4 linked regions of the Homo sapiens genome follow. The protein of the gene in region 4 interacts with the protein of the main gene of each other region in a pairwise test. Each region holds a gene or a part of one and is shown on either strand. Other genes may lie near its edges. The genes, in order: XAF1, TSNAX, ARID5A and RFC5.

Evidence for each region.
Region 1: the proteins of RFC5 (region 4) and XAF1 interact in binary tests that used the Homo sapiens proteins (3 or more experiments, as listed by UniProt).
Region 2: the proteins of RFC5 (region 4) and TSNAX interact in binary tests that used the Homo sapiens proteins (3 or more experiments, as listed by UniProt).
Region 3: the proteins of RFC5 (region 4) and ARID5A interact in binary tests that used the Homo sapiens proteins (3 or more experiments, as listed by UniProt).

Annotation. Positions count from the first base shown.
Region 1 is NC_000017.11:6,751,091-6,759,048, reverse strand, and holds the start of XAF1 (XIAP-associated factor 1), read right to left. Parts: upstream 3,004-7,958; 5' UTR 2,971-3,003; coding exon 2,939-2,970; intron 961-2,938; coding exon 825-960; exon of another isoform or gene 707-824; coding exon of another isoform or gene 424-706; exon of another isoform or gene 281-423; coding exon of another isoform or gene 90-280; intron 1-89. UniProt on the Homo sapiens protein: Seems to function as a negative regulator of members of the IAP (inhibitor of apoptosis protein) family. Inhibits anti-caspase activity of BIRC4. Induces cleavage and inactivation of BIRC4 independent of caspase activation.
Region 2 is NC_000001.11:231,531,652-231,538,669, reverse strand, and holds part of TSNAX (translin-associated protein X), read right to left. Parts: intron 1,458-7,018; coding exon 1,343-1,457; intron 1-1,342.
Region 3 is NC_000002.12:96,531,780-96,539,769, forward strand, and holds the start of ARID5A (AT-rich interactive domain-containing protein 5A), read left to right. Parts: upstream 1-4,972; 5' UTR 4,973-5,047; coding exon 5,048-5,051; exon of another isoform or gene 5,052-7,990. UniProt on the Homo sapiens protein: DNA-binding protein that may regulate transcription and act as a repressor by binding to AT-rich stretches in the promoter region of target genes.
Region 4 is NC_000012.12:118,012,385-118,019,714, reverse strand, and holds the start of RFC5 (replication factor C subunit 5), read right to left. Parts: upstream 3,013-7,330; 5' UTR 2,888-3,012; coding exon 2,823-2,887; intron 2,026-2,822; exon of another isoform or gene 1,664-2,025; coding exon of another isoform or gene 1,662-1,663; intron 644-1,661; coding exon 579-643; intron 84-578; coding exon 1-83. UniProt on the Homo sapiens protein: Subunit of the replication factor C (RFC) complex which acts during elongation of primed DNA templates by DNA polymerases delta and epsilon, and is necessary for ATP-dependent loading of proliferating cell nuclear antigen (PCNA) onto primed DNA.

The sequences.
Region 1 (7,958 bases), on a different chromosome or scaffold from region 4:
AGGGAGGACTGGAGCCATTCCCTGACTCCCAGACCCCTTCTTTCTTGCAGGGAGGATGGAACACTTGCCCCTCCCAGACCCCATCTCACCTGCAGGGAGGACTGGACCCTCGTCCCCCAACTCTCAGACCCCATCTCTCCTGCAGGGAGGACTGGACCCACTCTGTGACTCCCAGATCCCATCTCTCCTGCAGGGAAGATGGAACACTTGCCCCTCCCAGACCCCATCTCACCTGCAGGGAGGACTGAACACTCTCCTTGACTCCCAGACCCCATCTCACCTGCAGGGAGGACTAGACCCTCGTCCCCCAACTCTCAGACCCCATCTCTCCTGCAGGGAGGACTGGACCCACTCTGTGACTCCCAGACCCCATCTCTCCTGCAGGGAAGATGGAACACTTGCCCCTCCCAGACCCCATCTCACCTGCAGGGAGGACTGAACACTCGCCTTGACTCCCAGACCCCATCTCACCTGCAGAGAGGACTGAACACTCGCCTTGACTCTCAGACCCCATCTGTCCTGCAGAGAGGACTGAACACTCGCCTTGACTCCCAGACCCCATCTCACCTGCAGAGAGGACTGAACACTTGCCTTGACTCTCAGACCCCATCTCACCTGCAGAGAGGACTGAACACTCGCCTTGACTCTCAGACCCCATCTCTCCTGCAGAGAGGACTGAACACTTGCCTTGACTCCCAGACCCCATCTCACCTGCAGGGAGGACTAGACCCTCGTCCCCCAACTCTCAGACCCCATCTCACCTGCAGGGAGGACTGAACACTCACCTTGACTCTCAGACCCCATCCTCCCTGCCGCCTCCTCACCTGCTGGTGCTCAAGCTTGCAGTGCTCCTCCATGGTTTCCTTGGGGACAGGCTCCTCACACTCCGGACACAGGACCAGGAACCGCAGGCAGTAAGCCTCATGGAGGGTGAAGTTGGCAGAGACTACATGTCTTTTACTACAGGGTCAAGGTGTGGGGATAGAAAAATAGACTTATTTTCATATTATAAAACATGGAGCTGTATTTCATACCCAGGGCTAGATCTCCAGAGGCCTTAAGCACTGAACATGTGATGATGATGACACCACCTGCCCCACACTCCCTGTGTGGGTCCAAAAGTCAGAACAGTGAGGCAGCATCTAATAAGAATAAGGATGATCTACAGAGCTCTTACATTGCTGGGGCAGGGCATGGGAAGGAGCAGGAGGGAGGAATTACAAAGGGGCATGGGGAGCTTTTGGGGTGACAGGAAGCTTCATTATCTCAATTACGGGGATGGTGTTTCATGGATGTATATAACTTAGGCCAAAACTTATCAATTGCTACCCTTTAAAATGTGAGGTTTATTGTAGGTCAATTATACCTCTATAAGGCTGTTTTTAAAATGAAACATTTCATTTTAAATAATGTAAATAATTAAATTATTTCAATTTAAATAATTTGAGAGAAGTGCCAAATTCTCTTGAATCTTTTTTCTTGTTTTCTGGTGCCCCTGTTTGGTCCACAGTGTTAGGAACGCAGCCCTGCTAGGCTCACGCTTCCTGCCAGGGCCATGCCAACTTCCAAAATCTCCAAAGCGAGAGCTTCCCAAGTCTCCCCTGCCTTCAGGTTCACCTGCGCTAACTCACAGAGACTCCGAGGTTCTTCCTGGAGACCACAGTGAAGGAAGGGTTCTGAGCCTCCCACTTCCTGGGCAGGGCATTTTTCTCTAACCGTCCTTTTTGCCAAGAAGTGCCCCCTTTTGGCTGGGTGTGGTGGCTCATGCCTGTAATCCCAGCACTTTGGGAGGCCGAGGCGGGTGGATCACCTGAGGTCAGGAGTTAGAGATCAGCCTGGCCAACATGGTGAAACCTCATCTCTACTAAAACAATACAAAATTAGCCGGGCATGGCGGTGCACGCCTGTAATCCCAACTACTCGGGAGGCTGAGGCAGGAGAATCACTTGAACCCGAGAGATGAAGGTTGCAGTGAGCTGAAATCGCGCCATTGCACTCCAGGCACTCCAGCCTGGGCAAAAAGAAGCGAAACTCCATCTTAAAAAAAAAAAAAAAAGAAGAAGAAAGAAAGAAATGACTCCTTTCATTTCCATCAGCTCTTGCTTGTGGCAGCTTGGGAGAAGGGAAATGGGGTGGCTGTAGCCGTAAAGGCCCAGGGGACGAGAAGAGTTACATGCCCATGTTCCTGGCACAGGGGACGTGCTCCGAGAGGGACTGTCAAAGCCTCACTCCTCTTCTGCCCAGGCAGCGGGCACACAGGCAGCATCATCTTCCCTTCCTCTGCTCTCTCTCCTCTGCCTGACCTGGCCCCTTCTCCCCCTGCTCTTCCTGGGCTGGTTGAGAAACCAGAGTACTTGAAGGGTCTGGCTGGAGCAAAGCTCTCTGGGGAGGGTCCACTCAGGTCCCTGTCACAGGTAGGGAGCTTTGAGAATGGGGCTTTTTGATCGGTCAGATTCCGCGCCCCCCCTCCCGTTAGAGGTGTGGTCCCAGCCCCCTGCTCTGTCCCCCCTGCCCCGCCCCACGGCTCCCTTTCCAAGGAGGGTGAGAGTAGTCCTGGAGAATCTCCGTGGGACACTTTCTTTCACAGATGGGTGTGAAGGTCATAGTATCAGAACCCCAAATTAGGACCCAAGGTCTCACAAGTATGAGTAGCCCAGTTGGGACCACTGGCCGGGCTATTTGGCTTCAGAACTGTCCCAGAAAGCCTAACATTTGGGGGAAAGGGGCTGCAGTGAAGTGGAGGTAATGCTGCCCACCCCCACCCAGAGATTACCAAGTTTAAACCCTCCTACCCTTGGGGCCCACGGTCTCCAGCTGCTTGTCCTCCTAAGTGTTCTTATGCAGGAACCACTTTCTGCTCCCTTCAGAAACAGCCCTATGTCGTCTACGTCTCTCCCTCGCCAGCCCGGGTCTGCCGCTGGAGAAAGCACTTTCTTACCAGTTCCTGCACACCGAGAAGTCTCCTTCCATGTTCTGCTCTCTGCAGGCTTTCGGTTGAGTTTCGTTTCTTGCAGGCAAGGAAACAAAACTGAAAGTTTTCCGATGGCCCAGCCCACAGCTTCAGGGAGGGAGGAGATCTTCAGAATTCTCGGCTCAGGAGTTCCCCTTGATTCCTGAGGCTGGACCCTCCCAAGAAGCCCCTTTACAGCATGGCCAGCCCCTGCTGTCGCCCTTGGCCGTCATTCTTTGCTGCTGTCACAGCCGCATCTACCTCCCTGAGGCTGGCAGCCTGAGGCCAGGCCTCTCCTGGGCAGCACAGCAGCTTGTTCCCTCACCCTGGCTGGCTGGCTTCTCTCCGTCTGGGTCTCCATCCCTTTTCCAAACCATCCACCTCCCACCCTTCTCCCCCATCTCCGGCTCCCTTCTGGTCCTCCCCTGCAGGAAAGAGGGAACTTGCCATGTTGAGCTTGAATGCTGTTCCCTAAAAATGGCTCCTGGACTTCCAGGCGGTGAGGACCTTGCAAACAGCGTCCAGGGAGGCTCTGGGGATGCAGGGTGGTGTGAGCCCAGACCCAATCTGGTGTGTATCCTCCTGGGGGTCCTTAGAGTTTTTCCAGACCCTAGAAACAGCTGTGCTAACAGAAGAACTCTAAACAACATCTGGAGTGATGACAAGCAGGCCCAGAGAATTCCCGTGGCGTCTGCCAATGGGGTGGGTGCCGCCTCTCTGAGGAGGATAACAAGATTAAGGGAAATGTCCAGGCAGGGCTCCAGCCTCCAGGCAGGCTCTAAAATTCAGGCACTAAATGAGAAGCAGTGTGTGGTGGTACTGATGATCACAGTGATAGGAGGGAAGAATGAAAGACTGTTTCAACATTGTTCCTATGTTCCAGGCACCATTCTAAGCATTAGGTAGGCATTGTCTTCGTTTTAATCCCTCATGTAAGCATTATTAACTCCATTTTGCTATGGAAAACAGAGGCAGTGACAGAGTGAGACTCTGCCTCAAAAAAGAAAAATGAAATGAAAAAAGAGAAAATGGAGGCAGAGAGAGGCTAGGCCAATCGCTCAACATCAGAGCTGGGATTCACACCAGGTTGATATGACTCAGGTGTCTATGTACCTAACCAAGGCCCCATCCACCTCATTTGACAGCTAGTTGGGGTAGTGAGCACTTGGCTGAGAGTCAGAGACTGAGGTTTGCATCTTATCTTGTTCCCTTCCTCATCGGCTAGGCAAGCTCCTTAATCCTTCTGACCCTCACTACCCACTCCTGTCTGTCTCTGGGCAGTCTGTCAATATCAAGAATGAAAAACGAGTGGGCTTGGCTTGGTGGCTCATGCCTGTAATCCCAGCACTTTGGGAGGCCGAGGTGGGCGGATCACGAGGTCAGGAGTTCGAGACCAGCCCGACGAACATGGTGAAACCCCGTCTCTACTAAAAATACAAAAATTAGCTGGGTATGGTAGTGCTTGCCTATAATCCCAGCTACTCAGGAGGCTGAGGCAGGAGAATTGCTTGAACCCAGGAGGTGGAGGTTGCAGTGAGCCGAGATTGCACCACTGCACTCCAGCCTGGGCAACAGAACGAGACTCTGTCTCAAAAAAAAAAAAAAAAAAAAAGGGCTGTGCGCGGTGGCTCATGCCTGTAATCCCAGCCCTTTGAGAGGCCGAGGCGGGTTGATTATGAGGTCAGGAGATTGAGACCATCCTGGCCAACACAGTGAAACCCCGTCTCTGCTAAAAACTACAAAAAATTAGCCGGGCGAGGTGGCGGGTGCCTGTAGTCCCAGCTACTCGGGAGGCTAAGGCAGGAGAATGGCGTGAACCCAGGGTGGAGCCTGCAGTGAGCCGAGATCGCGCCACTGCACTCCAGCCTGGGCGACAGAGCGAGACTCTGTTACAAAAAAAAAAAAAAGAAAGAAAGACAGGAAGAAAGAAATGGAAAAGAAGGAAAAATGAAGAACTTTCTTTTCACATATTGTCTCCTGCTGAGATGGGATAGGGGTGGTGGCAGGGGTGTATAGATTGGACACCTTAGAGGAATGGAATGTGTGGCCAGGGGATAGGAGTGGAATTAGAAGTGACCATAAGTTGCTTCTCATCTACATCCTAATTTTCTTCCAAGATGTTTCCTCCTATAGACTGTCCCACCCACGCCAACCCTTCCCTTCCTCATCAAAATCCCAGCAGTTCTTCAGGACCAACTCCTATGCCAACACTGATCTAGAATCTACCTCCTTTGTCTCTGGCTTTGGTTAGTTGGCTGTGTGTCTATTGTCTCAACTCCTCCCCATCCAATCACAGGCATGGGCGATTTGAGAGCCAGCTCTTTCTGACCCACCACCCCTGCCTTCCTGGAGAGACCCGCGGGCTTTGTGCTTATTAGGCAGAGTGCAGTATTGAGCTTCGCAGTAGCAGGCAGTCAAATGCTGGCTGACCCGAATGGATGGGGTGTTTTGAGATAATTAAGCAGGGAGTTGGAAATCTCCCCCAACCCACACAACACCCCTGAGTCGGAGGGCTCTCAAAGTGGCAGCAATGGCCATTTTCTTTTCATTTCTCAAGATAACTTAGATTTCATAAAGAATATATGAATATACACTCTTTAAAAAAATGGAATGTTACAAATACAGCAATGTTTCTCTTTGACTGTCACGGCTGTTCCTGGGCCATCACTATTATTAATCAGAGAGTGTATGTAGGAACACTCTGGTTAGCACAAAAGCCTGTCCCCATTTCCACTACGACATCAATCGGTGCTGTGGGCTTGTATGATTTCATCATTCTGCCACCCGTCTTTGGCTGGTCGCCAACCCCAATCCCATTTAAAAAAAAAAAAACAAAAAACAGCTAGATGAGAAATGCTCTGTTGTGGGCTTAGAATTCCTTTCCAGGACACTGTGGCTACCCACTTGGCCGTTGTGGGGAGTTTCCGGCAGTCTCTTTGTGTCAGGCCTGTGGGTCAGGGGAGGGGGGTGAAGGTTGTCACAGGAAGCCAGTCTCTCAGACGTGAATTGGCCGGGCTGGCCATGTCACCTTTGCAGGAATCGGGGGGAAAGGGGAGCAGGAAGTCCTGGCTGGACTAGGACACAGGAATAATACACCCCTCCGTGCATTGTTTTGAAGATCAGAAGAGAAATTGTGTGAAAGCTGTACTTGTACAGCATGGAAGACAGGAAAGAATATTTAAAAAGGATTGTTTTAATAGTTTGGCTTTGAGAAGGGATCTTATTTAGGCTTTCTTCTTTTAAGGGATCACTATGCTAAGGAAGATGATGTAACGACAGAGATATTTCACTTCCCAGACAAAAATTATATGGTGCAATTGCACACACTTCTGTCGGTGGTGTCTTTAGAAGAATCCTGTGGTCAGAGTGGGCCTGAGTCCTGGGAGATGTGATCATATAGTCAGACTCCCCAAGCACAACGTGTTTGGATGGGAGTTCGTTTGTCAGACCACAGGAAATTGCATCAGATGACTAGTCTCTGGATGGCATTCAAGCCTGGGAATATCTGTGACTGTGTTTGGGGAAGACTCTAGGCCTGGCTGGGCAGCAAAGACGGGGAATGACCTGCTGGCTGCTGCTTAGTTGGCATATGAAGGGGAAGGAAGCTTGTCATTAAACTCATGGCAAGAAAGAGCAACTCCATGGCATTCTGTCTGTGTGGGGAGTGACCAGTACTTTTCTCTTCCTTTCTTTCTTTGAGAAGTCTCTTTTCACACATTCATAGTTTTGTTTTTGTTTTTTTCTTTTTCCTGGTTAAAACATCTCACCCACTTCCCCTGCCAACCCATTCCCGTCCAATCAGCAATCACAGTCCAAATGTCAAGGTCTCTTCCCTGATGTTTACAAGGGTGAGTGTTATGAGCCTTCTCCTCTTCCCAGATTACACATATTGGGTAAAGAGATGAAGTCTGTCTCTGTCACTCAGGCTGGAGTGCAGTGGTGATCATAGCTCACTGCAGCCTCGAACTCCCAGGTTCAAGCAATCCTCCTGCCTTCACACAGACTACAGGCACACACTACCATACCTAGCTAACTTTAAAAAAAATTGTAGAAATGGGGTCCCACTATGTTACCCAGGCTGGTCTTGAACTGGCCTCAAGTGGTCCTCCAACCTCGGTCTTCCAAGGTGCTGAGATTACAGAAATGTGCCGCTGCATCCAACCAATTTTTTAATAGCTTGATCATGGTATGGTCCCCTTGGTTGCTGCAAATCTCATGGAACTCAGGACAAATGACCATATATGTCAATTTTTTTGTTGTTTCTTTTTATGGTGGAGCGGGGGAGGTGAAAGAGAAAAAGTTTAGAGCTTCAGGGTCTTTTCACTCAGAATTTGGGGTGAACATACTCATATGGTTAAGTTGTGGTAATGAACAGCCACTCAGACTCTCATTTTAGGGAATAACTAGTGTTTTAATTTTTAAAAATGGAAACTTATGTTTCTTCCTACCCTGTCCTTGACATCACGTGGTCTTTCTTACAATGATTCACACTGGCTCCAAGATATTGTGTCCATCTCTTCTTCTTCTTCTTCTTCTTCTTCTTCTTTTTTTTTTTTTTTTTTTTTTTTTTTTTTTGAGAAGGAGTCTCGCTCTGTCGCCCGGGCTGGAGTGCAATGGTGCCATTTCGGCTCACTGCAACCTCCACCTCCCGGGTTCAAGCAATTCTCTGCCTCAGCCTCTTGAGTAGCTAGGATTACAGGCGTCCACCACCACATCAGGCTAATTTTTGTATTTTTAGTAGAAATGGGGTTTCACCATCTTGGCCAGGCTGGTCTTGAACTCCTGACCTCGTGATCCTTCTGCCTCAGCCCCCCAAAGTGCTAGGATTACAGGCATGAGCCACTGGGCCCGACCTGTCCATCTCTTCTTAATGTTCCATTTATAAGGTCATGCTGATACCTTAAAATTGGCCATAGTGAGAGTATTTAAACCGTGGAAATGGGCAAATGCTACAAATCGAGTATCTCCCCATCCCCAAGATCTGGCTGTTAAATACTTAGCAGCTCAT
Region 2 (7,018 bases), on a different chromosome or scaffold from region 4:
TCTTCCCTACATTCTTTCTGTGACATATAGTATAAAACCAATCACAGCTACCCTTCTGGAGACATCTGGAATTTGTAACAACAATCCGTCTTCAGAAGCTGGACTAAAACACGTAAGCTGGGGAGTTGTAGGGTAGATACTATTCTACCTCTCGTGAAACAGGCAAAGGAATCAGGTCAAATGAATTATGAAGCAAACAAAGAAGCAAAGATGGAAGATGGAGATCCTCAGCTGCTCATAAGATAGTGCTGAATCTTGGGAAGTTCTAATTTTTCTGAAGTCTGCTATTTTCTCAGTTTACTAGTCAAAACTGTATGAATAATATGATTACAACTGTAATAGAAAATAGTGCATAAAATAAGAAATCTGCTAGTTGATAGTGGCTTTTTTTATAATTAATTTCCCCGTTCTGCTTAGACTAGTTTAAGTTAGTTTCTTTTACTTGCAATCACGAAGTCTATCAAATATACAAAGCCTGCGTAGAAAAATAAAATAGTAAAGTCCTAGAGAAAAAAATGTAAACAAAAGTCACAAAACTGAAACAGGAACTTTCGAAAAAGAATTAAGTAGTCAACAGTATCATATGCTACAAAAATGTAAAATAAGAAAACAGAGACTTAATAATATGAAGGTAACAAGGGCATTTCAATAATTGTGAGGCAGAAAGCCAGACTGCCATGAGTTCAAAAATGAACGAGAAAATAGGTTATGCAGATTTTAACATTTATCTAATATTAAAATTTTCACGCATATCATCCAAATAAAGTTTAATGTAACAGGCTCTAACAATCAAAATATATCATATATTTTCACAGACAATAGCTATATCTTAATGAATAATCTTAACACAAAATCCCTAGCTGCTCTGAATTTTTCTTTCTTAAGTCCACCCAACCCCTACAGACTTTTCCTTTTTTTTTTTTTTTTTTGAGACAGGGTCTGGCTTAGTCGCCCAGGCTAGAGTGCGGTGGTGGGATCTTGGCACACTGCAGCCTCTGCCTCCCAGGCTCAAGCAAGCCTCCCACCTCAGCCTCCCAAGTAGCCGGGATGATAGGCATGCACCACCAATCCCACCTAATTTTTGTATTTTTAGTAGAGACAGGGTTTCACCATGTTGCCCAGGCTGGTCTCGACCTCCTGAGCTCAAGTGATCTGCCCGCCTTGGCCTCCCAAAGTGCTGAGATTACAGGCATGCGCCACCACACCCAGCTGAGACCTATTTTTATTAAAATATTAACTCTTAAGTTGTACCTACTGCTGATGTCTTCTAATCCTCACAAAGTCACAGAATATTCTAATAGCTAGTATCAAACTGTAATAAATTCTAAAGATGCTTACTCACCTTGTAATCCTATGGAGGAGAAAAATTGTCCTTTTACTTTCAACAGTTATATCCCGACTAAGTTTCACAAGTCTCTCATATTTGTCATGCCTTGCATCAAGTTCCTGCTGAAATGCTAAAAACACATTATGATCATAAGCATGTATATTCTATACTCAAAGCCTACCAAACAATATTTTTAAGATGTACGTCACATATGCTGGGTGCGGTGGCTCACGCCTGTAATCTCAGCACTTTGGGAGGCCACGGTAGGTGGATCATGAGGTCAAGAGATCAAGACCATCCTGGCCTAGACGGTGAAACCCCGTCTCTACTAAAAATAAAACAATTAGCTGGGCATGGTGGCATGTGCCTGTAGTCCCAGCTACTCGGGAGGCTGAGGCAGAAGAATCGCTTGAACCCCGGAGGCAGAGGTTGCAGTGAGTCGAGATCAAGTCACTGCACTCCAGCCTGGTGACAGAGCGAGACTCCGTCTCAAAAAAAAGAAAAAAAAAAAAAGATGTCACAATGTAAATGCAGACAATGACTGCAGTCACCTGACTTCATTCAGAAGTAGAACACGATGGTAATGACACTAATTCTCAAAACACAAAAAGGTGATTATAAACAATCTCTAGCATCTACTGACTCTAGTGTTAATTGTCAAATATCCTAGGTATACATCACTAACAGCGCTAAAGTAGCTCAAGAGGTCCAGTTAATGTTCCCAGATTTCTAAACCTTTAAAACTAAATATCTAATAATTTCTGTAAATGCCAACAACGCACAGCAGCTCACAAATTCCTGAATCCTTGAAGATTTTCTAAAAATCTGTCAATTGTAGTAAGGTAGCACGTGTATATTAAAATGAACATGAAACAACTTCTTAAAAGTGAGTGCCACAGTATGTGTATTGTATCTTAATTTTTTAAAAAGCTACCAAATTATATCACATTTAAATACTAAGTAAAAATCTAGTTAGCCCGTTTATTTTAGAAAGTACATAATCTCAAATTTACTGTTTTACCATGTAGTAATATTGCATACATAAGCATAATATACTTCAGAAATATTATTTTCAGAAAGATTAGTAAAGAAGAAAAAAGGAAAAATGACTGAAAATAGACAATCACTACATGAGTTAGTTTTGTTATAACTAGAGAACTAGATCATAAAGTAGTTCTGCAATCAATAGAAAGCTGTGGCAGAGTTCATCTGAAAATGATCAGTAAGAAACATCAAAATTTAATTAGGCTGGAAAAAAGTCAGCTGAAAATTGAGTTAGTCAGGATGTTAGAAATCTAGGAAGAGAACTGAAAGTAGGAGAAAATGAAGAAGAGTTCCTGAGATCGATGAAAGGCTGAACGCAGGCTGTGGTGTCCAATTCTTACATACTATCTTCGAAGACTCAACACTTCCACATAGAATTAATCTTCAACCTGTCAAATTGTTACGGACACAAATCTCCCATAACATAATATTACATTAAGAAAAGATTTCCTCCCCACTTTCATACATCCTTTTCCTTACAGAACAAAGCATTTTCACAATTCTAACATGTCTTGCCTTCAGGAAAATTTTCATACATTTGTCTCCTTAAATGTCAGCACTTTGATTCCTTATAGTTACTGTTTTCTCCTTACCTGTATTCGATCAGCACTTAATGCTGAATGGAATACTTTTGTTTCTATCTATTACATATAACTGCCAATCTGCTTACCTTTTATGCTAACTTAAGTTTCATCTACTCTGCTTAATTTGTTTTAGTCTCGAATATTGAGACTCAAAGAATTTTACCTTGGTAAACTTTTTACGGAAAGCCTAACTTGAGACTGCCAAACAAAAACAGTGTTTTAAGTTTTTTTAAAGAACAAGCTTTCATTATACCACTATCAGATGTTTCAGCCTCAAAATTTTTTCCTTACTAAAATTCTTAACAGTTAACAAAATAATTACTTTGTATTATTGTTTAAAAGACTACATCTAAAGTTTTGTGAATATACTTAGAGCAAAAGGTATTAAATAAATTTAACTGAAGAAAGACTGTTTACCTTTTCCAGAACACAAAGCTATACTTACAGAACGTTGTATATACCTAACATTTAATAAAACAGTACAACAACTGGGAGTCTACATAAAGATTACATTACCTATGGGAAAAATAACCCGCAGAATCTAGAATCTTTTCATAGTAAATTCATGCCTCTAACACATTAAACTGCCTCATGTCCTGCCCTTAGCTCATGAGCCAGGCAGACTATGTCTTCTTGCTAGTCCTGATTCTCTAAGCTTGTACCTTTCTTGATGCCTCTATTTTTGCTACTGCCTCTCATCATCTCACATTTCACTTTCATCATTCAGATATCATTCTGCTCAAGGACTGCTTAAGAATCACGTGCCTCCCTCCTCCCTTACTCTCCATTCCTTACCACGCTTCACTGATTTACATTTATCCTTCGCTAGCTAAAATTATATTATTTATTTGTAAATGCACTTGTTTCACCACTGTATCAGAGCATAGATCCATGTCTAGCAGCAGGTGTTCACAAAACATTTCCTGACTGAACTGCTTGTTGAAATCATAAGCAGTATAACATACTGGATAAGAGCATCTGTTGTAGTTTGAGATAAACGTACTAAGGGTATGCAATCTCCTGGGAACTAAGAAATTGTTGAAAAGGAACTGCAAATCCATGTGCCCAATAAGCACTGCCCCTAACATGGAATAATGTCTTATTATTTTGCTGCTATTACTTTTTCAAATGTATGCTAATGCAGTTGGAATAAAGTATAAATTACTCATAATAGTAATATAAGTTAATTTTATAAAGCACTGTTGAATCTGTCTCATCAGCTTCATTACTGTCATCCAAATCTAAGTTACCTTATTACTTTATTACCTCTAAGTTACCTTACAAATACCTTACTGTACCGGAACTACAAAATAGTCTCTTGTCTGGTCTGCGTCTGCCCACCTTGCCTTTCTGTAGCTGCCAGAGTGACATTTCTAAAATATACTTTAGTTTTTAAGACTCTCTAATGACTCTGCATTACGTTTAACAAACTCCAAACTCTTTATGAAGCCTTACATTACTTGGTCCCTTGCAATACCCCCAAAAAGAACAAATCAACAAACCATCATTTATGTAGTATTCCAGCCAGGGATGCATAACCTGAATCTAACCATGAGAAAATATTAATCAAATCTAAGTTGAGGAATATTCTATTAAATAAGACCTATATTCTTCAATCAATATCATTGTCAAGAAAGACAAAACTGGGAAACTGTTCCAGATCACAGAAAACTAAAAAGAGACATTACAATGTAATATGTGATCCTGTTCTAGATTACTGGACTAGAGAGAAAAAAAGCTGGAAGGAACCTTATTGAGACAATTGTCAAAATATGCACTGTAGATTAAAGTATTATGTCAGTGTTAAATCTCCTGAAATTAGTTAACAATACTAGAGTTATACAACAGAATAGTCTTCTTCCTAGGAAATATATTCTGAAGTATTAACAAGTAAAGGGGTATGATGCATGCAACTTGTTCTTAAATGGTTCAGAATATATGGTTAGACATATAAATTTACATATATAGAGAGAATAATAAAGCAAAAGTGGCAAAATGTTAAAAATTGGTCAATCTAAGTCAAGTCTATACAGAAATTCTCTGTACTATTTTTCCAACTGCATTAAGTCTTCTAGTTTTTTAAATAAATTTGAGATTACCTCAAAATAAATTTAAAAAGAGACAGTATTTCTTTACTCAGATGATTCAACAACAGTAGAATATTGATCTGATAACTCCTTTTAATGCAATTAACTCCAACTTTGATAGCAAAGTGGTTGCTCGGACATTAAAGATCCTGGGTTTGAGTTGAACAAACTATACTATCTCATGAAATTTTGTCTGGAAGCTAGTGCTTCTCATTAAAGACTTTCCGGGCCGGGCGCGATGGCTCACGCCTATAATCCCAGCTCTTTGGGAGGCTGAGGTGGGTGGATCACTTGAGGTCAAGAGTTCAAAACCAGCCTAGCCAATATATAGTGAAACCCCATGTCTACTAAAAATACAAAAATTAGCCGGGCATGGTGGCACAGGCCTGTCGTCCCAGCTACCTGGGAGGCTGAGGCAGGAGAATTGCTTGAACCTGGGAGGCGGAGGCAGGAGAATTGCTTGAACCTGGGAGGCGGAGGTTGCAGTGAGCTGAGACTGCACCACTGCACGCCAGTCTGGGTGACAGAGTGAGAGTCCATCTCAAAAAAAAAAAAAAAAGACTTCCCATGAAATCCCTTTTAAAATCTCCTCTGACAGACCTGTAAGCTTTTATGTCAAACTTTTCCAAAACACTTGGTAAATCTTATGAAAGGAAAAAAAAGGGAAATGATTTTAATTTTCTTAGAATACAAATGGCTAGAAAGCAAAAACAGTCTGTACCTAAAAGTACTGTCTCTATATGTAAGAAAGCAATAATTATTCAGTTTATGAAAATGAAGAGAATAAAATCATCTTATTTCTAAATTACATGGAAATCAAAAAGGCTCAACTAAAATATTTTCCTCTTTAAATATAGGTATGTATTAACTGGGTTTTACTACTTAGTCTCACAATGGGAATACTGTACAAGTTGTAAAAAATGAACTTAGTAAACAAGAGATTATCACAAAATGACACGTAACAAAGAGTTACATAAAGTTTTAAAAATTACTTTAACCACATATATTAATAATATAAACACCTCCAAAAAAAGAAACTTGGACCTTTTTTTTCAAGTTTATTAAAATTTTTTTCCCTGTTGTCTTCCTGCTTTTCCACCTTTACTGGGGTATAACTGACAATTAAAAATTATAAGGCCAGGCATGATTGATTATGCCTGTAACCCCAGCACTTTGGGAGGCCAAGGGGGACAGATCACTTGAGCCCAGGAGTTCGAGACCAGCAGGGGCAACACAGTGAGACCCTGCCTCTACAAAAAAATCTAAAAACTAGCCACGTGTGGTGGCACATGCCTGTAGTCCCAGCTACTTGGGAGGTTGAGGTGGGAGGATCACTTGAGCCCAAGAGGCTACGCTTGCAGTGAGCCAAGATCACGCCACTGCACACTTCAGCCTGGGCCAGGGTGAGGCGTTGTCTCCAAAAAAAAAAAAAAACCAAAACTGTGTGTGTGTGTGTGTGTGTGTGTGTGTGTGTGTGTGTGTGTGTGTGTGTGTGTTATTACCACTATTAAGCTAATTAACGTATCCATCACCTCAGTTAGTTTTTTTTTTTTCCTTTTTGAGTCAGGGTCTCTGTTGCCCAGCCTGGAGTGCAGTGGCCCAATCACAGCTCACTGCAGCCTCAAACTTCTGAGTTGAAGCAGTCCTCCTGCCCCAGCCCCTCCGGAGTAGCCAGGACTATAAGCATACTACAGGCGCATGCTGTCATGCCCAGCTAATTGTGGTAAAAACATTTAAGATCTACTTACTTAGCAAATTTCAAGTATAAACTTCCTGAATTTATCAAGCTCTGTACCTTGAAATACCCTTAAACCACTTAACTCTCTTAATAACGCCTTTATTTCCCAAGTCTTTTCACTCCACAGCCCCGCAAGCTGCCTGGCCTATAGGAAACACCCAATCATGTATATTGCACGAACTGAAAAAACAAGAACTTAAACTATTAACTAAATTAGTAGCTGACATGGATCTAAATA
Region 3 (7,990 bases), on a different chromosome or scaffold from region 4:
GTGTCCCCAGGCCGATCCCCAGCCCTTTACTCCAACGGTAGACCTGAAGCTGTCGAGATATCAACTCAACATCTTAGGAGGGAGGGGAGACACTGAAGAAAAAAAAAACAAAACAGCTGCCCCCAGGAGGGACAACGATTCTCCCAAGAGCAGGCAGTCCCGAACTTCTCCCAGCACCCTGAACAATGAGGTAAACGGAGGTGTGGCGGGCCGCTCCCCCTACCCCTGCTAGCTGGATGCCAGCCCCCACCGCAAGCCCAGGGCTCAGCTGGCAGGGCCCCGCATGCAGCCCCCGCCGGGGGCAGGGCTGAGTGGCAGAGCGCAACAGCCGTGCCCCCTTCCTGGCCGTGCTCCTGCCTGGGCCTCTGGAGCCTGCCTCTCCCCCTCTGATGTAAGCTGATATTTTAATTCTCTTACAAGGAATGGTGTTTAGAGAAATGACTTAACCAGATTACTCATCGTCTCTAATGACTTGGCCCGACTCCAGCGCTATTCCTAGACGTGACGCTTGAGGCTTCGATTCTTTCTCTCTTTCCTTTTGCTCCTTTTTTTTTTTTTTTAAATACCAAGAAATTACAGCCCTGCCTACGCGGAGGCCCAGCCCCTACACGCCCCCTTTGCATGGTATCCTGGGAGATGGAGTTCTGTCCTGGCCCCAGTCATGCCCCCATCCCCAGCCCAACTCCTCGCCCCTCTCCCGCCTCATCTTGGTGGGAGATGGGCAGGGTGTGGCTGGGCAGAGGTCATTTAATCTCTACATGCCTTGGTTTACTCTTCTGTCAAATGGAAGGGTCACCTGACATACAACAGAGAGTGGAAGTGTCAGTTGAGACCTTATTTTAAGTAAAAGTGTCACAGAGACCCAATGGTTTTAAGAGATTTCTTGTCCAGTGCATTTTGTGCTAAGCACCAGTCAAGACTCACACAGAGCTTTAGTTACCCTGACCCTGGGACTTACCAGGGCCTGGCCCTCACCCAGCCCAAACTTACTCCTTCCTGTCTGTGGACGAGTCTGTGGGCTTGTCCAGCACTTACTCTCTGGTTCTCAATTGTAATAAGGGGATAGATATAGATACAGCGCCCACTTCAGAGGGCTAGAGTGACATTGAAAGAAATACTCCATGCAAGATGGTGCAGTGTGTGTTAGGGTCCGCCCTGGTCCAAGGCATTTTCACCCCTTTCAGCACAAGGCCTTGGCTGAGTAGCTGGAGCGGGGACTGATTCTTAGTAGCCTGTGAGGTTGGCAAGGGCCACATCTTCTGCTCCACAAGGATACGGACTTCTTTCTGGTTGTGGCTACATCCCAGGTCTAGCTCAGTGCTGGCACATAGTAGGACCACACAACACATGTTGGATGAGTGGATGACTGAATAAGTGGAGCATTATCCTGCTTTCCACGGGAGGGGCCTGAGGCCCTGACAGGTTAAGTGTCCAAGGCCACACAGCTGGGCTGTGTCTGAGTGGGAATGAAACCCCCAATTTTCTCTCCTTGCCCTCCGTTCCCCTCCCCCAGGGGAATTCAGCTTCCACCCTTCAGGCTCAGGAAGTTCAGAACCATGGGTTTCTACCCTGCTGGGACACACTGGGGAGATGTGGGGTGGAGAGGGGAAACCAGCCCAGCCCTGGCCCAACACAGGAAATCTTTCCAGATTGGCTGGAGGTTGGAGGGAACCTAGAGCCAGGTGCAGATGCAGCTTCCAGTGTGGACAAAGCTTGGGAAGCTGGTTTACACGCGCCCTGGGGTACAGTGGCCAAAGCTCTTTCAGGCAGGAAGTTGGCCCTTGGTGATCTGGGACTCACAACCACCTCCCCACTCCTTCACCCCCAGCAGTTCCCCAAAGGCCAAAAGCTATTCTTGTCTTTTTCTAAAAGAGGCATTTGAACCATGAGCCAATTTTTTCCATTCCTGAGCTTGGGTATCATCTATTTCGGGCATTTGTTGTTTTCCATGAGTTGCAAATGCTGCTGTGAAGCTGGCCTTTCCTGGACAGCTAGCACGGGGAACGAGGAGTTAGGCAAGCAGGGCGGGGCCGCGTTAAAAATACTTCCCCACTTCATTTCTCCTTTGAAAACAAACCCCCAGGGGCCTTTGGCAACTGCTGAGCCTGGGAACTGAGCTTCCCAGGATAGAAGACTGGCTGTGCATTCTGTTTCCTGAGGGCACTGGATGGGTTTGCAGGTCCCAGAAGAAACAAAAGCACTGATTTTGCTGTGTGACTTTGGACAGTTTGCTTAACCTCTCTGGCCTGGTGACCTCCTTTCTAAAATGAGACCAGGTGGACAGATGATCTTGAATGGTCCCTATATCTCTGAGAGCTCCAGGATGAGAACCACCCCCAGGGCCAGATTTTCTTCCTAGAAATGGGCTAACAAGAGGTGCTAGGACATGGAGGTGGGAGTTAGAAAGCAGCTTTTAGCTCAGTCTCTGGGAACACTTTGTGAGCTCCTTAGCCCTGGAACTGTTCTAAGGGGGTCTATAATGTTCTCAGCAGGATTCATGTAATTGCAAAAAGATTAAACGCTATCAAGAGGAGATTAAATACACTGTGCTGGGCACACAGCCCAGCAGTTCCCAAAGAAGCAGATCTGTGTTCCAACAAGGAAAGTCTGTAAGATCTAGCGGTGATCGAAAAAGCAAGTTTCAGAATGGAGCAATGAGAATTGTATCGTTTCTTTAAACACACACATAAAACAAAGCTATCTATTTTTCTATACCATGGATACATATATAGTTTTGAAAATACACATAGGGAAAGTTCTGGAAGACTTCACCCAATCTGATGGGTCTTTACCTCTGGGGCAGGGAGGGAACTGGATTTGGTGTAGCATCAGAGAGGGCTGATTTACTTGCATGTTTTTACAGGACGAATGTGTTTATTTATAAGTGATGGTTTGTTTTTCTTATTATTAAGACACACAGAGAGACACCAGGACACTGAGGGGCTAGCTGACCCCCTCTGTAGGCACAGAGGCGTCCTGGCCTGGGATCCTGTGGTTGGAGGGTGCAGAGGAGGGTGGCTTTGGGCCGGAGTGGAGGTGTGTGAGATGGAGGCTTGAGCAATGGAAGTGTTTATGCTTTTAGCCAGATGAATGGAGATGTCTGTTTTCTGCAGGATTTACTGGCCATTGTAAATTACTTTCTATTGCAAACAGTTGCCTCAGGAAGCAATTAAATTTAGATCCTATCGTTCCCAGGCTGGCACAGGCAGGTGTTGACTTGCTGAGGCTTTGCACAACAGCCCTTGTCTGTCAGAATGTGCCCAGCTGCCCGGATGGCAGAATAACCCTAACTCTTGGTGGGATGAGCTGCTGTCTTATAAGATAGTGAGTTCCTTGTCATTAGGGGTATCCAACCCACAAGTGAGGGGTTGGCCTAGATTGTGACCCCGGGGGCTGCATCCAGAGCTCCATCCCCAACCTTGGGCATAGTGCCTGCCAATCAATGCTTCCAGAATGTACAAAGGTGCTTCCTGATGGCATCCCATCATAGTGTCTTCCACCACAGCCTTAGCTTTCCTGGAGGGGAAAGTGGCTTGTAAACTTGCCAAAGTGGGATGCATTGTTATAATTACCATTATGATTGTTCTGGGTGTCTATTACCAATTCTACAGGTGCTGGCTCTTACAAGCCAACCCATTATGAGGTAGACAGGGGATTTATCCTGCAGAGCCCACAGGGTCGTCTGCTCTAGACTGAGCCTGCAGACATCTTCCATCCCAGGGCCAAAGGGTAAGGGCCAGGGTTTCAGGTTCACCAAACTGCAGCCCTGGTCCCTTCGTTTAGTGTGAGGAGGGGCACCAGTATGATGAGTGGTTAGTAATGGGTGCAAAGCGGGTGGGGGGATGCCTGGGTATGAGGGCTCCTCTTCCTGGGTCTAGCTCTGGCTCCAACACCTACCAGCTGTGCTACTTGAGCTAATCTCTCAGACCTCAGTTTTACGCTATAAAATGAGGACAATGATGGTGTCAAGTGCATAGAGCTATTATGAGTATTAAAATTCATCAACAAAGATTTTTGTGTAGCTTCTATGTGCTAGGAACAGGGTTCCCATCCTAGCTAGCCACCTGCTGAGACTGAAACCCTGAGCCTCCATTTCTTCCTCTTTGGCCTGCACAGGTCCAGGTTGCTGCTATGGCTGGCTGGGCACCTCCTCCTGCCTCCATTCGCCCTAGGCCTCATTCCCACCTCCCACAGCCTGAACTCATGCCCCTTCTTTGGACTACTCAGCTTGTAGCTGCCACACTCTGTCTGCATTATGTGTGTGGACATTGACTATTACTGGCAGGCCTGGCCACAGAGCCTAGGCCAAGGATTTACTAGTTTGGTCCTTGTCTAGCTCACACTAACCACCTCTCCTTTTTTTTTTTTTTTTTTTTTTTTTTTTTTTTTTTGAGGCAGGGTCTCCGTCTATTGCCCAGGATCCAGGATAGAGTGCAGTGGTGTGATCAAAACACACTGCAGCCTCGACCTTCTGGGCTCAAGTGATCCTCCCGCCTCCGCCTCCCAAAGCAGGGATTCCAGGCGTGAGCCGCCGCTCCCGGCCTCACCTGGCCTTCTTTGTTGGGCTAGGTGGGGACTGGGAAATGCACAGGGCCACTTTCAAATCAAAGTCAGAAGCACTTTGCTCGCTCCACAGAGTCCTCAGTGCTCTGCTGAAAGCAAGGAGGCTTTTTCCAAGGCTCTAGTTTTGCCTCCAGGGAAACTGAGGCACAAGGCAGCAATGATTACTGAGGGTCCTGCCTCCGCTCCTCTAGGTGAGGAGCCTATTCCAGGGGCTCCAGTCTGAAAGCCTAGAGGCGAGGGGCGCGCACTACAATTCCCAGAGGTCCCCGGACTCAAGGGCGGTCCCCGCCCCCCGCCTTCTCCGCGCGACGAAGCCGGGCTTACCAATGGGAGCCCGGAGTGGGGCGAGCAGGGGCGGGACGGGGCGGGACTGCGGGGAGGTGGCCGGCGGGCCGCGCCGCGAGCCAGTATCTCAGAGAGCGCGGGGTCCGGACAGCCGCGCGCTGAGGGTCTCGGGGCGGGCGCCGCGGGACCTCTCCGGGCCATGGGTAAGCGGCTCTGCGGCGCGGCCCGGACAGGGGCTCGGCGGCCCTGCAGGGAGGTTCAAGGTGCCGGCGCCGGGTCCCCTCCAGCCCTCGTGGCAGTCGGTGCGCTGTGTGGGGCGGAGAGGGGCCCGGGGTGGGTTTCGGGGCGCGGGCCAAGGGGAGCGAGCCCGGCCCGCGGCTTCAGCGCTCCCCGGCCGGCGCGGAAGGGGTGAGGCTGGGCGTCCGCGCGAGCTTCGAGAAAAGGAAAGACAAAAAGTTTTGGCGGCCAGGGGCTTCCCGGGCGTTTATCTCGAAACTCTTTTCGCCGTCTCTTGCCTGAAATATGCCGAGCCCGGTACGGCTCTGTCGTCCCACTTCCTGCTGCGGTTTCCACCTCGAGCTGGGCTCAGCTAATTTGTTGTGACAGCTGTCGGCAGCCGCCCCTCCGCCCCGTGACATCCCGCAGGTTTCAGAACCGCGGCGCCGCCGGGCACAGACTCCGGGTCCAGAGCGCGCGGCCCTTTCCTCTGCGGCCGCCGTTTCCTGAAAGGGGCTGCGCGGGTGTGAAGAACTTGCTCAATGCGCTTTGTAGGATCCACTGTTCCTCTTTCGGCCGCGGGCTGCGCCGATGGTCCGGGGAGCCCGGCTTCTCGCCCCCTGCCCCTTCCTTCTCTTCCCTTTTCTCTTTTCCTCTCCTGTCTCTCCGCCCACCCGCCGCAGCCCCACAGGAGAGGGGTCGCTTCCCTGGTTGCTCTCCTCTCCTGTCCCTTGTGTGTCCCCTTGTCTTCCCTCGGTCTGCAGAAGGGACGGGGTGGCGGCTGGGGAGCGTCAGGGGAAGAGGGCAAGAGCGTGGGCTACGAGCTTGCAGGCGATGCCCGGCTTCGCGCTCGGCGGGAGCTGCGGGCCAACCCGGGCCCGCGCTCCGTCCCTCCGCGGTGTCTAGGGGTCGCCCGGGCTGGGGTCGCGTCACCCTCCGCCCAGCGCCGGCGTGGTGGGGCTTGCGCGGTGCAGGACCCCCGAGGGCCCAGGGGGTCCCAAGGCGCTGCGGGTCCAGTGTCCCTTTGTTTGCAGAGTCTTGGGCCAGTAAGGAGTGCTCCGCGGGCCCCAGGGGAGGACAACAGGTGCCTCTTGCCCCACCCGGGCTCCTCTGGTGGGAGCCCACACGCACGGTGGCGTCACTGCGCCTACAGGCAACGCTAGAGCACAGGAGGGGTGGGAGGTCGGGGCTCGAGGGCTTCACCCCGCAGCAGAGCTCAGAGCCCAATCCAGGCCTTAGGGACCCGCCTGGGGCCTAGAACTTGGTGTGGCAGAGGTAGAAAGGGCCTCCGATAATCTGCTTCTACAGTTGAGAGACGTCAACTGGCACCTCTGAGCCTCTGCCCCGTAGGTGAAATGGGAACACACGAAACCATCTGAGGAGCTCTCACTGTCCGTCACCACCAAATGTGGCCCAGACTCCGTGGGGAGGGACAGTCCCATCCTGGAACTGGGGCTTTTAGGACATCCCAGAGCCCGGTAAGAGGGACAGGGAGAATGGGGCTTGGAAGTTGGTAGCCTCACATTCAGTGTCCCCCGCACCTCCTTCCCTTTCTGTACCCTCTGGTGGCTCTTGTGGCCTCAGCTGCCCCCAGACCCTGTCTCTCTCGCCCTCCCCCAAGCTGAGGTACTGAGGTTGGGCTGTGGCTTGAGCTGCACCTGTGCCCTGTTAGGGAGTGGGGGTCCCAGGCCCATCGCGTTTCTTCTCACTGCTGGCTCCAGCTCAACACTTGGCAGGCCCCCCTCCCCAAACTGCTGGAGCAAGCTCGCGTAGACTCGGCCTGGCCGCCGCTCCCGGGCTGCCGAGTGGACCGGCCGTTTCGCCGCTTCAAAGGCTGTCTTTGTTTTGCTCCAGCTCAAGCTTAGAGAAACTTAAGCCAACAACCTCAGCCGAGGGGGCGGGGCGGCGTCTGCTGGTTGTTATTGAGGCTGCTGTTACCATTATTGTGGTAATTGACGCAGTGTTCCCAGTCGGTGACTTTTCATGAAAGGAAGTGTCACTTCCTTCCCATCACACCCAGGGTGAGTGGGGCGGGCAGCAGAAAGATGGGGAGGGAGAGAAGGAAAGGGGTGTGTGCCTCCAGCAGACCCTTAAACTTGAGAGCTGTGTGGCCTTGTACTAGTCACTGCCCCTCTCTGGGCAACAGGGGTCTGTAAGTCCATTGCGCTCATCCTGCACCCAGGAGGCTGATGTTTCCGGAGCACCTGCTGGGCAGCGAGGTGCCTTGGGGAGGGAGCAGGACAGGCAGGCCTCTGATCTTCTCACTGAGCCTGGCTGTGGTTTGTGGGGGAAGCCTCCTTTCTCTTCTCACTTTTTTCTGCTGAGAACATTGGGCACATTGAGTCTAGCACGCCCATCTTGTAGATGGGGAAAGGGAGATACAGAACCAGTGACCAACTTGGTAAGAGGTGCAGCCATGCAGTGCTGGAACCCCTTGCCCCATCTGTCCTCTTGGCCCACTTTCATCTGCTTCCAGCTTGATGTCTGGCAGGGCAGGGGCCCACTGACTTCCCCGCATCCACCCACTGCCTGGCCCCATAGCTACCTTCTAGTCCTGGCTAAGCCCCGTGAGACATCTTAAGTTTGTCTTCAGTGACTCTCAACCACCGCCCGACTGCCTTCACCTTCCTGCCTTTGCATACCTGCCTTTGCTTCGCCAGGTTGGTTGGGCCCTGGCCAGAGCTGGCCCCCTACTCTCTCAGGTAACAGGTAGCAGTTTTTTAAATGGAATCTCAGTAGGTATCAACAGGTCTTTCCTCCTTCCTCAAGATTATGGAGATAACACCCCTTATTCAAAGATGGTGGGTCCTCTGGGCCCTCCCCGACCCAGGCCAGGGAAGTTGATTCATAGAGTGTGGGGGCCATGCCCCTTCCCGGCCCTCCCCCTCTCCCCGCTGCTGCCCAGCTCTCTGACCAGCCCCCTCCC
Region 4 (7,330 bases):
TAGGATGGTAGATGTCTTGCCTGTCCCTGGGGGACCGTAGAGAAGCAAGTGTGGCAGTCGGTCTTCATTGATAAACTTCTGAACTGAGGATCAGGAAGGAAGAAGGGCACCATCAGTCTTTGGGAGCTGCCTCATTCACCCTGGGCTCCTGAGTTGGGCTGAAAGCTCTTCAACCCAATTCAATGTCCAAATCAGAGGCAGATACAACTTGATGTAGGGGCCTCATATCTACTTTCGTGGAACAACTGGAATTCACTCAATAGCGCAGCCAGTCAACAAGTATTTATTGAGTGCCTACTGTGTTACAGGCACCTTTCTGGGTGCTGGCAACATCTGTGAACTTAAATGATTCTCCGTAATGCTATTTTTACTCCACTGTGTTGCAATTTTATGCTCATGTTTGTGACTTACCCACTGGACTGTAGCAACCTGAAGAAAATGAATGAATGATCTTAAAGCCACATTCTACAAAGCGCAATCAGATTCTTTGAAGTTATTACTTAGGAGAGACAACATCACCAAGCAATTTATACAAGTCGCTCAAGCAGGACAAGAGCAACTGACACATGAATACTTACTGGTACTCAGAATGTCCTGATGAGAAATGAGATCATTCAGGGTCTGTGGCCGGTATTTTTCAACCCTGAAATACAATTTAGTATGTATTATGACATATATAAATGCAAGAATATTTTATGTGCAAAAGAATCCTTGCAGGTCAGGCACAGTGGCTCATGCCTGTAATCCCAGCACTTTGGGAGGCCAAGGTGGGTGGATCATTTGGGGTCAGGAGTTCAAGACCAACCAGCCCGGCCAACATGGCAAAACCCTGTCTCTATGGGTACCTCCTAGGGTCTTTGTAAGGATAGAACAACTAACAGGGTGTCTGCTAACCCGATAATATGCCATTCAATAAAAAATACCAAAAAATACAAAAATTAGCTGGGCATGGTGGCATACCCCTGTAGCCCCAGCTACCCCGAAGGCTGGGGTGGGAGAATTGCTGGAACCCGGGAGGCGGAGGTTGCAGTGAACCGAGATTGCACCACTGCACTCCAGCACTCCAGCCTGGGCGACAGAGTGAGACCTTGTCTTAAAAAAAAAAACAGAATCCTTTCATATCCTAATTTAAAAAGGAAGAATAAGAAAGCACTTTAAGTTTGAACAGACCAGTGGTTCCCAACCACAGGTGATTTTGTCTTCCTAGGAACATCTAGTGATATCTAGAAACATACTTAGTTGTCACAGGTGGGCAGAGGGTCCTATGGCACTCAGTGTGTAGTCTCCAGGAATGCTGTTAAACATGCTACAGTGCACAGGACAGCTCCCCTAAACCCACCCAGAGTATCTGGCCCAAAATGTCAATAGTGCTGAGGTTGAAAACTCTGTTCTAACTTCATCTTTCCAGCTGTTTGCCTATAATCTCAACCTGATGGGCACCTACTATTGCAAAGTGCATTTGAAACTGAACTCCTACCCAAATAGACTTCAACAGAAGAATGGATAGGTAAAATCTCTTCTGTCCATACAATGGAATATGATTCAGCCATAACAAGAAATTAACTACTGATACAAGCAGCAACATGCATGAACCTTGAAAACATGATCCTGAGTGAAAGAAACCAGACACAAAAGGCCACATAGTGTAGGATTCCACTTACATGAAATGTCCAGAATAGGCAAATCCATAGATAGAAAGCAGATTAGTGGTTGCCAGGGGCTAGAGGAAGGGGAGAATGGGGAGTAACTGTCAATGGGTAAAGGATTTCCATTTGGGGTGATGAAATTTTGGAACTAGATAGCGGGAAGACTCCACAACAGTACACTGCATTCTGAATGTACTTAATGCCACTGAATTGTACATTTTAAAATGGTTACAGGATGGGCTTGGTAGCTCGCCTCTAAAAGTCCCAGTTCTTCGGAGGCTGAGGCAGGAGAATGGCTTGAACCCCAATGTTTGAGGTTACACTGAGCTGTGATCACACCACTGCGCTCCAGCATGGGCGACAGAGCGAGACCCTGTCTCTAAAAAAAAAAAATACGTAAATACATAAAATAGTTACAACTGTCAATCTTCTGGGTTTTTTTTAACCACAATAAAGACAAATTGAACTAGTTACTAGACAATGACAACTTGCAGCTTTTCGAAGCCAAGCCAAATTGCTTCAAAGTCTTGGAAGCATTGCGAGAACATAGCTGTTTAAGTAGGATGGTTAAGAGTACAAGATCTGAATTCAGACTTCCTAGATTCACCTCCAAGCCAATTTTCTCCCTTGGACCATAGGGAAGTCATTACATCTTTCTAAAATGCAGTTTCCTCCTGTGTAAAATTTGAAGCGGTGCCTACCTCCTACGGTCTTTGTAAGGATCGAACATCTAACAGGGCGTCTGCTAATCTAATAATATGCCATTCAATAAAAGTTGACCAGGGAGCGTTATTACTAGTTTAAAATGTGACCAATAGTCGCATCGCAGGTTTTGAAGAGTGGGAAGAGGGCATTTTGGCATGGAGGCCATTGCAGGCGTCAGGAGACGCGGGATCGAACCCCTGTGCTGTCACCAGGTGCGAAAGCCGCCTTCTTCTTCGGCAAATGGAGCTGGGGGTGAAAGGGTGAGAACTGGCAAAAGCCCTAAACAGAACGGACGAGTCTGGGTAGCTGGGGGGTGTCGGGGGAAACCTCTGCAGGTCGGTCCCGGCTGCAGGCCTGGAGACGACGGGAAGAGGTCGGGTTGGGGTCCGGTCACCTGCCACCCCAGCCACCTCCTCCCCGCGCGGCCGCCTGGCCCCCTCTGCCCACCGCCGCCGCTCGGCCTCCTCCTACCAGGGCAGGTTCCTGATCTTGGTCGCCGCGGGCTGCTCCTGCTGCTTGAGTGCTGAGGTCTCCATGGCGGGGAGACGAAGGTGACCAGATCCGCTGAGATCGTCGCGTCACCCAAGCGCCTGCACAGTGACCAGCCGCGACCTGACCCTGAGACCCTGGCACTTACAGTTCGCGCGCAAAAGCAACTCTCGCGAGACGCGGCCACCAGTTTCCGACTTCCTCCCTCGGTCCCGCCCCCTCGCGTTGCTAGGGCGTCGGTTGCTAGGTTACCGGAGGCGCGGGCCGCCAGCGTCCCTCCAAGCTCCGCCCCTCCAGCCTGCTCTGAACTCTCAGATACCCAGGCGCTTCCAGAGCAGGGCAGCGGGAGAGGCAGGGCCCCCTGCAGCCCCAGTCATCATTACATATTAAGATCTCAAGGCCAAAGCCAATTCCTGCCATCGCCAAGCTTCAAACACTTAAATTCAAAGGAACAAAAGCTGCCGGGGCTCAAAAAAAAAAAAAAAAATCTAAGAAAAAAAACAACACCGAGTAAAACGGCTGGGTCTTGAATATAGATGCCTTTGCGAAAGAAGGCTTGAGATACCTCTCGGCCCCCAAGCTGGGAGGTGAATATTTGGAAATGAAAACAACCCCAAACAAACACAACTGCAACCTACCTATCTCCGGAATCCGTGCCCCTCGCCCAAAAAGTTTAGGGAACCAACCTCCAGAAAACGACTCCAGAGAAAAACAAACAGAAACTTCCAGTTGGGTTAATCTGTGTCGCTGGAAGGTCTAGTTCATGAACACAGAGGACAAGGTCCTTGTGATCTGAGATACTGAGGAGAATCGATATCAACATTTTAGGTTTTTTTCCTGAGGCGAGGAGAATTCTAGATCACTTTTATTTTCTTCTTTTTTGTTGGTCTGTATTTTCTTTTCTTTTTTTTGGTGTCTTGCTCTGTCACCCAGGCTGGAGTGCAGTGGCGCTATCTCGGCTCACTGCAACCTCTGCCTCCCGGGTTCAAGCGATTCTCTGCCTCAACCTCCGGAGAAGCTGGGATTACAGGCGCGCGCCACCACGCCTGGCTAATTTTTGTATTTTTAGTAGAGATGGGATTTTGCCATGTTGGATAGGCTGGTCTCGAATTCCTGACCTCAAGTGATCCACCCGCCTCAGCCTCCCAAAGTGCTGGGATTACAGGCGTGAGCCACTGCGCCTGGCCTGGTCTGTATTTTCCAGCAATGAGCATGCAAAGCATCCATATTGAAGTCTTTTCTTTTTTTTTTTCTTTTAACATGATGAGGAAGACAAAAATCCTGGAGGATTTTTGAGGCTGGCCTGGGGTCAGCAGTGTTCTGATTAGGAGGTAGCAATACTCTTTGCATAGGATTACATCACTGTCACCTGCTTCAGGAACACAGCAGAGGGACAGTGGCAAGTATGTGATGGCAGTTATGGCTTCACCCTAGCCCCTGCCTGGGGACCCCGAAGAAGGGGATCAGCTAGGGCTTGTGATGTGACAGTGCCCCTACTCTGCTTGCTCCCAGGAAACTTTAACACTGGGGGCTTAGATCATTAGCATGCCATTTTTAAACTTTTCTTTCTTTCTTTTAAGATAAAACTGGTTTTATTCATTTTTATCTCCAGGAAGGGAATCATAAATGATTAACAAGTTTTTCTTAAATACTAAGGCTAAAAATCAGCACATGTTTACAATTAATTTGCTGACACATGCTGAGGTGAGATATAGATGCCTCTGAATTAAAGTTATAGAAACACATTAAATATTTGTCATGTATTGCCAAATTCTGGGGTCTTTGAACACTCCTGGGGTTTTGTTCTGTTTCGTTTTTGAGAGAAGGTCTCACTATGTCACCCAGGCTGGAGTGCAGTGGCACAATCACGGCTCACTACACTCTCTAACTCCCCGGCTCAAGTGATCTGCCTGCCTTGGGCCTCTTAAAGTGCTGGGATTATTGGCATGAGCCACTACACCCAGCCCACTTCTGTTTTTTAAAAGGCATAAAATACAAGTGATGGGTATAAAAATAAAGGAAAACAGCTGATACAATTTTAGAAAACAACTGATACAATAACTAAGCAAAATTATGAAAGATTACTAAAGAAATAAATGGTGCTATACCCTCCTCACCAACGATCTAATTGTTGAGACGCAGGCTTCACACTGGGGTAAAATCCTAAAGGGTGGCTGATATGGTTTGGCTCTGTTTCTCCACTCAAATCTCATCTTGAATTGTAATCCCCAGGTGTCCAGGAAGAGAGGTGAGTGGATCATGGGAGCGGTTTCCCCCATGCAGTTCTTGTGATAGTCAGTGAGTTCTTACAAGATCTGATGGTTTGATAAAGAGCTCTTCCTACTTCACTCTTTCTTCTCTCTCCTGCCGCCTTGTGAAGAAGGTGCCTGTTTCCCCTTCGCCTTCCACCATGATTGTAAGTTTCCTGAGGCCTTCCCAGCCATGTAGAACTGTGAGTCAATTAAATCTCTTTCCTTTATAAATTACCCAGTCTTGGGTATTTCTTTATAGCAGTATGAAAATGGACTAATACAGTGGCTTTTGAAACTAAAGGAGAAGTCATCAAGAAAGCATTGCTTTGGGTGTCAGAAGACCTGCCTCGAATCAGTTCAACTCTAAAAATCTTTACACAGCCTATGGAGAGAAACCTAAGCAAGTCCCCAAATCCTCAAGTGTTCCAGGAGAATGAAAAGAATTATAAAGGCTAAAGAATTATTAGAATCAGTGCAGTGAACATGTAGACCAAAGCATTCCTACATGCCAGGAAAATGGTGCATTTGAATGTTTTTGCTTCTCATGAGAAAGGCAATTTAAGTTGCAAGGCAAAGGCAAACTTTTGAAGATGGCCACGTGGACTCTGGATCCTTCTCTCTTTGTTCATGATTTGTTCTCCCTTCAGTGGTTTTGCTCCTTGCCAAGCATTAGGTACCCTTGGGGTGGGATGCCACTTTTTCCACTTAGCCTTGGGCAGGTTTCTTCTCTCCTTATCCAATAATATTTACTCAAAGATTGTTGTAAGGATTAAATGAAAGAACAAATGTGCAGCATCCAATACATCGCCACCCTACTCTTCCCTTCCCTCCTAACACTCTCCACCCAAACTGTTCTGGTTTCAAATTTGTCCTCTGAAACAAAACCCAAAGGATTGGCTAGTGGAACTATGCCATAATCTGCCCTTATTGATGGTTAAGGCCATCCTTACCATCATGGTACGAGCCATTCATGGTAAGAACCATCCTTCTAAGGACCTTTGCATTAGAAGCATGATGCTGCCACCTCCTTGAGCTGGAAGATTCAAAAAAGAACAGAACAACTTATCATAAAACTCTGTGTGCATCTGCTGTTCCGTTAACTTGGAATGTAGAATTCTCCTGTGTTGACATTAGATTATATGTTGCAAAGTCATCTATTGTATGCCTTCCCAATGGAATGTAAGCTCATTGGAGGAGAACCTTGACTTACTCACCACTGTACTTCTGGGGCCTGAAACATTGCCTGGCTCAAAGGAAGTACTCAACTCATAACTGTTTGATGAATGAATGAATGAAAATGGCTCATATCCATTAGGCAGTTTCTATGGCCGAGACACTGTTCTAAGCACTTTACGTTTATTATGATCACTCAATTGTTACAAGAAGCCCAAGTTACTATCATTGGCCCCATTTTGCAGATATGTTAGGTACCTTGCTTAGGTTCTCACTTGTAAGGGGCAGAACTGGATCTTGCTAATATAGTCTGATTCTATATAGCCCATGCTGGGACAACAGCATCAACAGCAGCCCCTGGGAACTTGTTAGACATTCTAATTATTCTTCCCACCACCTCAAACCCAAGACATCTTAAACTTCACAGCTGGGGCCCAGCCATCTGTGTTGTGACAAGCCCTTGAGGGGATTCTGAATCGCTCAGGTTTGAGAGTCATATCACTATACTACCCTGCTTCTCAGTCCTCAAGCACTCCAGGAATTTGATTTCCTATTTATTTATTTATTTGAGAGAGGGATCTCACTCTGTCACCCAGGCTGGAGTACAGTGACACTATCGCAGCTCACTGCAACCTCCACCTCTAGGGCACAAGTGGTCCTCTCGCCTCAGCCTCCCTAGTAGCTGGGAATGTGGGCGCATGCCACAACGCCCGGCTAGTTTTTGTATTTTTTGTAGAGACAGGGTTTTGCCATGTTTCCCAGGCTGGTCTTGAACACCTGGGCTCAAATAATCCACCCACCTTTGCCTCCCAAAGTGGCTCATACTGGGATTACAAGCATGAACCACTGCACCCAGCCGCAGGACTTCACTTTCTAAGAAACACAATGGATGCTGTCTAAAAACAAAATTTTATCAAATTGAATTTAATGATCTCATTGTCTGTTATTTTCTGCTTTTTTTTTTTTTTTTTTTTTTTGAGATGGAGTTTCACTCTTGTTGCCCAGGCTGGAGTGCAGTTGGGCAATCTTGGCTCACTGCAACTTCTGCCTCCCAGGTTCAAGCGA